2 separate regions of the Homo sapiens genome follow, and region 1 is reported to be linked to region 2. The links are microRNA targets in miRTarBase. Many come from high-throughput screens and were not tested one by one. Region 2 holds a microRNA gene; the other region holds the end of a gene's coding sequence.
Evidence for each region. Region 2 holds the annotated microRNA hsa-miR-423-3p (AGCUCGGUCUGAGGCCCCUCAGU, at 1,672-1,694, opposite strand). A microRNA usually pairs through its seed, bases 2 to 8, with sites in the 3' UTR of a target mRNA and lowers its output. Matches are read on the target gene's strand: a 7mer-m8 pairs with bases 2 to 8, a 7mer-A1 pairs with bases 2 to 7 and ends in A, and an 8mer does both.

Region 1 (3,000 bases), not on the chromosome of region 2:
CAAAGATAGCATCCAGCCCAAATGTCAGTAGTGCCAAGAATGAGAGACCTTATATTTTTAAAAAGTAAAACATAGTTCTAAAAAAGCTGTTTATCCCATGAAATGATTCACCATCATTGAATTTACTGTGAGGTACATTTTAGCATTTGAAAAAAAAAATCCTGATTATTTTTGCATATGTCTACTTGCAGATTTAAAATGTAAATTTAAAATGCTTTAGAATAGGTTATTGTAGTATTCTTACATAACTAATCTCATCTGCTTTTTTTTCTTCTCCCCCCTTTTTCCTTGTTGTTTACAGAGGAATGGTAGGAATCATTCTCACTGCTGGGATTATTGGATGGTGTAGTTTTTCTGCTTCCAAAATATTTATTTCTGCATTAGCCATGGAAGGACAGCAACTTTTAGTAGCATATCCTTGCGCTTTGTTATATGGAGTCTTTGCCCTGATTTCCGTCTTTTGAAAATTTATCTGGGATGTGGACATCAGTGGGCCAGATGTACAAAAAGGACCTTGAACTCTTAAATTGGACCAGCAAACTGCTGCAGCGCAACTCTCATGCAGATTTACATTTGACTGTTGGAGCAATGAAAGTAAACGTGTATCTCTTGTTCATTTTTATAGAACTTTTGCATACTATATTGGATTTACCTGCGGTGTGACTAGCTTTAAATGTTTGTGTTTATACAGATAAGAAATGCTATTTCTTTCTGGTTCCTGCAGCCATTGAAAAACCTTTTTCCTTGCAAATTATAATGTTTTTGATAGATTTTTATCAACTGTGGGAAACCAAACACAAAGCTGATAACCTTTCTTAAAAACGACCCAGTCACAGTAAAGAAGACACAAGACGGCCGGGCGTGGTAGCTCACGCCTGTAATCCCAGCACTTTGGGAGGCCGAGGCGGGCGGATCACAAGGGCAGGAGATCGAGACCATCCTGGTTAACACGGTGAAACCCCGACTCTACTAAAACTACAAAAAAAATTAGCTGGGCGTGGTGGCGGGCGCCTGTAGTCCCAGCTACTCAGGAGGCTGAGGCAGGAGAAGTGTGAACCCAGGAGGCGGAGCTTGCAGTGAGCCGAGATCACACCACTGCACTCCATCCAGCCTGGGTGACAGGGTGAGACTCTGTCTCAAAAAAAAAAAAAAAAGGAGACACAAGACTTACTGCAAAAATATTTTTCCAAGGATTTAGGAAAGAAAAATTGCCTTGTATTCTCAAGTCAGGTAACTCAAAGCAAAAAAGTGATCCAAATGTAGAGTATGAGTTTGCACTCCAAAAATTTGACATTACTGTAAATTATCTCATGGAATTTTTGCTAAAATTCAGAGATACGGGAAGTTCACAATCTACCTTATTGTAGACATGAAATGCGAACACTTACTTACATATTAATGTTAACTCAACCTTAGGGACCTGGAATGGTTGCATTAATGCTATAATCGTTGGATCGCCACATTTCCCAAAAATAATAAAAAAATCACTAACCTTTTTTAAGGAAAATATTTAAAGTTTTACAAAATTCAATATTGCAATTATCAATGTAAAGTACATTTGAATGCTTATTAAAACTTTCCCAATTAATTTTAACTGTGTTATTGAATTTACTTTTACTAAACTACTGTTCTCTTTGTCTCTTTTTTAACTAGGCTCTGATTTTGACCCCTAATTTAAGCTTTAAGAATAGAAATCAGCTAATATAGAATCAGACAAAAAGGGGATTAAATGAGCAGTTTGAGTTACATTATTTTATTGTATTAAATTTATTTGATTTATATTGTCATGTTCTCTTGCCAGAGAGAATCTGTAGGAAAATACTGTATCTTGTATACTGATCATTGGCTTTTTCTAGAAAAACTGTCTCTGATTCTGGACAAAGCTCAGTTATAGTTACGAGAAAGATATGGTACAGGGAGGAAAATACTGCCTTTTTTTTTTTTTTAAAGAGATTTTCAGACTAAATAGAAATGTCAAAATGATGTATCAATGGTTCTTTTTTAGAACAAGTTTTCAAAGCATAAAAAGAGGTTGAGAGAAATAACATATTTATTGATTCACATAAGTATGTTTTTCTTCATTAATCGTCTGGAGAAACCCACTTGTCATTAATTTGTTTTGGGCTAGGTTTTCAAACTTACCAAATTGCTTTAAAAAAGCAATTTGGAAGGTAATTTGATAGGCTTTCCAACTTAACCAAATTTTTTATTGTAATTCTTGGATAGTATTTTTGTCTTTTTCAATTCATTTGTCTTTTTCAGTATAGTTTTTGTTAAGGCAAATGTCTTCCCTTAATATCCAAATATTGCTAATAAACGGTAGAAGATGCTTTGGAAATTAAAATTATCTCGCTGTTGGTTAGACTTAACACTGTTAATCTTCAGCCAAATATCACATATGGATCAAATTATTTTCTTTTTTGTTGTTTACCCTATCCTCAACAACATTTTTAGTTTAAATTATTGTAGAGATTTTTTTTGTGGTGGTTATTTTTTATTTTGCTCCAAAATAATAAGGTGCAAAGCTATTTTATGCTTAACTGTTGCTCTGTCAAAACAGCTATGCAGTGGAGTTGCATTTGATGTTCTAGAGTTTGATTACATGCAGAGTTGTATATAGCCAAAACTTCTCTTATCAAACTCTGTTATGTAGGCATATTTATATATACATTAAAGACTGTTGTACTGTGTCTCAAAAAGTACTATGTGGCGCTTTTTTTTTGTCTATCATTGGAATAGATTGGTTTCTTCAGTTAAGTACCAGGTAGATTACCTGCCTTGCTTTAGGCCCATTTTATACTAAAAGCATGCAGGTATCTTTAAACACTAGAGACACCATAGCTAAAAGCTCATCCAGTGATTGTCATTGAGTAACTGAAACTCATCGTGGGGGTAACAGACTGAAACACGCCTTATCTCCAAATACTGTACTTGTGAGTGGAGTGGCAAATTGACTTAACACTAGTGTGTTACTCATACATGTATACATGCCAAGATCAT
Region 2 (3,000 bases):
GTGAGCCGAGATCGCGGCATTGCACTCCAGCCTGGGCAACTGAGCAAGACACTGTTTCAAAAAAAAAAAAAAAAAGAGAAAAGAAAAGCACACATTTGGGATTGTTTCTGATATATAACTGTGGGTTTCACAGAAGTAGTTTTGGCTGCTAAAATAGAAAATGTTGATATTAGATGTTACTGTAGTACTATCAAGAGTAACTATTCACTACCACGATTATAACTGAGCAATTACATTTGGCAGACACTGAATTTAAAAAAAAAGTAGCGTTGTTAAGAACTGTTATATAGTGATCTTAGCTCATGGTTAACAAATTAAAAACTGCTTTGCTAATAAAAATTTGTAGAAAATTGGTGACATCTTAATAACTCATACCTAGGGATCTTTACACCAACAATTTTGTTATGACAATTTCAGTAGTCTGAAAAGACCGTGTATTTGTTTAAAGGTAAAGTTTGCAGCTTTTAGAGGGAAAAAAATCTTTAAAAAATCGGTGGAGCTGCTTTCTTTACACCTTCCTTTTTGACAATTCTGTAAATTATACTCCACTGTACTGACAAATAACAAAGGCAAAGGTATCAGAGTCACAAGTTCAATTTTTAAAAAATTTACATTTCCAACCATGCACGAGTAAAACATAGGTTTCCTTACCTCATCATCATCATCAGAATCATTCCCAAACACTGATGGTTTTTGCAAAACAGGGTGCAACTGCTGTGTTTTCTTTGGCAAAATAAGCCCATACCTGCATATATTTTTTTTGAAATAGAAATTAAACCTTTATGTTTAAATGTTAACAAATACATCTACTACCTCTTCCACATGAAGCTACCAAATCAAAACATGTCATAAGCTTTATGAACACGTAACAGACTGTTTTTGCTTCTCAGTGATCTCAAAATTCTAACATGCCGTAAGATTCTATAATTACTACTCTAAGTGATCATTTGTGGACACGGGCCAAACTCGAATACCATTTTTATCAAAGAAGAGAAGTAAATGAAAAGTTCAGAAATGTTTTAAGATGGCGAAGTGACAGTAACATTTAAAAAAAAAAAAAAAAAACATGTGTAGTGGAAAGTTTAGTTCATGTCCACTAAAGATTTTAAAATGCTTTCAACTATCCTTGTGGTCTAAACAGTCAAGAAAATGGCTAGATTTTTTTTCCTACTGTGTACTTACACAGTTTCTAAGAACTGACTGGATAGTGTAACTCACGAAAATTTTTAAAAGATAACTGAGAAACCCAAGTAGCCATGGGGCAAGTTCGCATTACACTTTATTAAGATCATGTGCTTTGCCTCGGAGCATCTGAGAGAACCATCCCATCAGATCCAACTCCTTTAGTTTCTCACGTTTTGGCCTTTAAGATGCGGAGATCACGGGAGGCCGCATCAAAAGTAAGGATTACACATCAAAGGTAAAACTTTCAAGTACGTACAGTATTTGTCTCTTTTGCGGCAACGTATACCCCAATTTCCTATATGCCTACCCTTTTTCTGTGGCTTCTCAGAACAATATTCCTAAAACGAGAAGGAAGGGCGGGAATCAGGACTTGAGCTTCTGCCAAGGAGAACAAGGCCCTCTAAGGAAGCCAGGAACTGTCTCTCTTCACACTGCCCCTGAGAGCATCCAAGCGGGGAGAAACTCAAGCGCGGGTTAGGAAGCAAGACTGAGGGGCCTCAGACCGAGCTTTTGGAAAATAGAAAAGTCTCGCTCTCTGCCCCTCAGCCTAACTTCCTTTATTTCCTCACAAGTTTCTCCCTCAAACTTCGGGCTTCCATCCGGGAAAATGTACGGGGGAGGGGAATCTATGTTCCTCAGGACTTCTCGTTTTTTCCCGTCTCTACCCTTGACGACACAGTCCCTTCACTTCCAGCGCATTTAAAACTCCTCGGCCAAAGATACAGTCGCCGTAGTTTCTCATCCCCCAGCCTGACCCTAACTCCCGGATCACTCACTGCCTGCCCGGAATCGCCATCTTGCTCCCGTGTCCGCTGAACGTGGCCGACGCCTCCGTGACGCTGACGCCGATGTCGTCACGTAAACTCTCGCGCGGCTTTGGGTGGCCCGGATCCTGCTTGTCGGTTGAATCGCTGGTTTGAGTCACTTCTATGGTACTGGGAATCGGATCCAGTGACCTCTGTTTTGTTTCGGAGCCCACCGGCTGCCTCAAAATCTGTAGGAGAAAGGAATGACAACGTTCTAGGCCAGTTGTTCGCAGTGTGTGGTTCTGGGACCAGCGGCATCAGCAACACCGGAGATACTGTTAAAATGACAAATTCTCGGGCCCTACCCCAAACCTGCAGAATCAGAAACTTTGGAGTGAAGCGAGTTATCTGAATTTTAACCAGCGGGTAATTCTGATAAAGTTTGAAAACCACTGCCATGGCTATCGATATTCCCCCTACCCCCTTCCAAGTGTTCACTTTAACTGGTTCAGGATAATTAGGCGAAAAATGAAAATCTGTGTATTAATAATACCTTACATAGGACCAAAATTATTATTAAAAAAAAAATTTTTTTTTTGAGACGGAGTTTCGCTCTTGTTGCCCAGGCTAGAGTGCAAAGGCGCGAACTCGGTTACCTCAACCTCCGCCTCCCGGGTTCAAGCGATTCTCCTGCCTCAGCCTCCCGAGTAGCTGGGATTACAGGCATGTGCCACCACGCCCGGCTAAGTTTGTATTTTTAGTAGAGACGGGGTTTCTCCATGTTGGTCAGGCTGGTCTCGAACTCCCGACCTCGGGTGATCCGCCCGACTCGGCCTCCCAAATTGCTGGGATTACAGGCATGAGCCACCGCGCCCGGCCCAAGGACCAAAATTATTAATAATACTGTTCACGGGCCATTGGGTATAGGAATCAGGATCATATATGATACTTTTTTTTTTTTTTTTTTTTTTTTGAGACGTAGTCTCGCTCTTGTCGCCCAGGCTGGAGTGCAGTGGCATAATCTTGGCTCACTGCAACCTCCGCCTCCCAGGTTCAGGCGATTCTCCTG

Region 1: miRTarBase lists YIPF5 as a target of hsa-miR-423-3p. The part of its 3' UTR that is shown has no 7-base or 8-base seed match.

The regions. Positions count from the first base shown.
Region 1 is chr5:144,157,861-144,160,860 of GRCh38, reverse strand. It overlaps YIPF5 (Yip1 domain family member 5), which reads left to right. Exons shown (of 6, transcript NM_030799.9): 6 at 302-2,699. The coding sequence ends at 464. Among named protein-coding and RNA genes, the nearest start is that of YIPF5, 11 kb to the left of the region's middle.
Region 2 is chr17:30,115,825-30,118,824 of GRCh38, reverse strand. MIR423 (microRNA 423) reads right to left here and starts at 1,746; the gene lies at 1,653-1,746. It overlaps NSRP1 (nuclear speckle splicing regulatory protein 1), which reads right to left and starts at 2,009. Exons shown (of 7, transcript NM_032141.4): 1 at 1,962-2,009; 2 at 652-745. The coding sequence starts at 1,981. It overlaps MIR3184 (microRNA 3184), which reads left to right and starts at 1,665; the gene lies at 1,665-1,739. RefSeq lists silencers at 1,577-1,646, 1,583-2,184 and enhancers at 1,897-1,996, 2,027-2,126, 2,147-2,266, 1,299-2,498.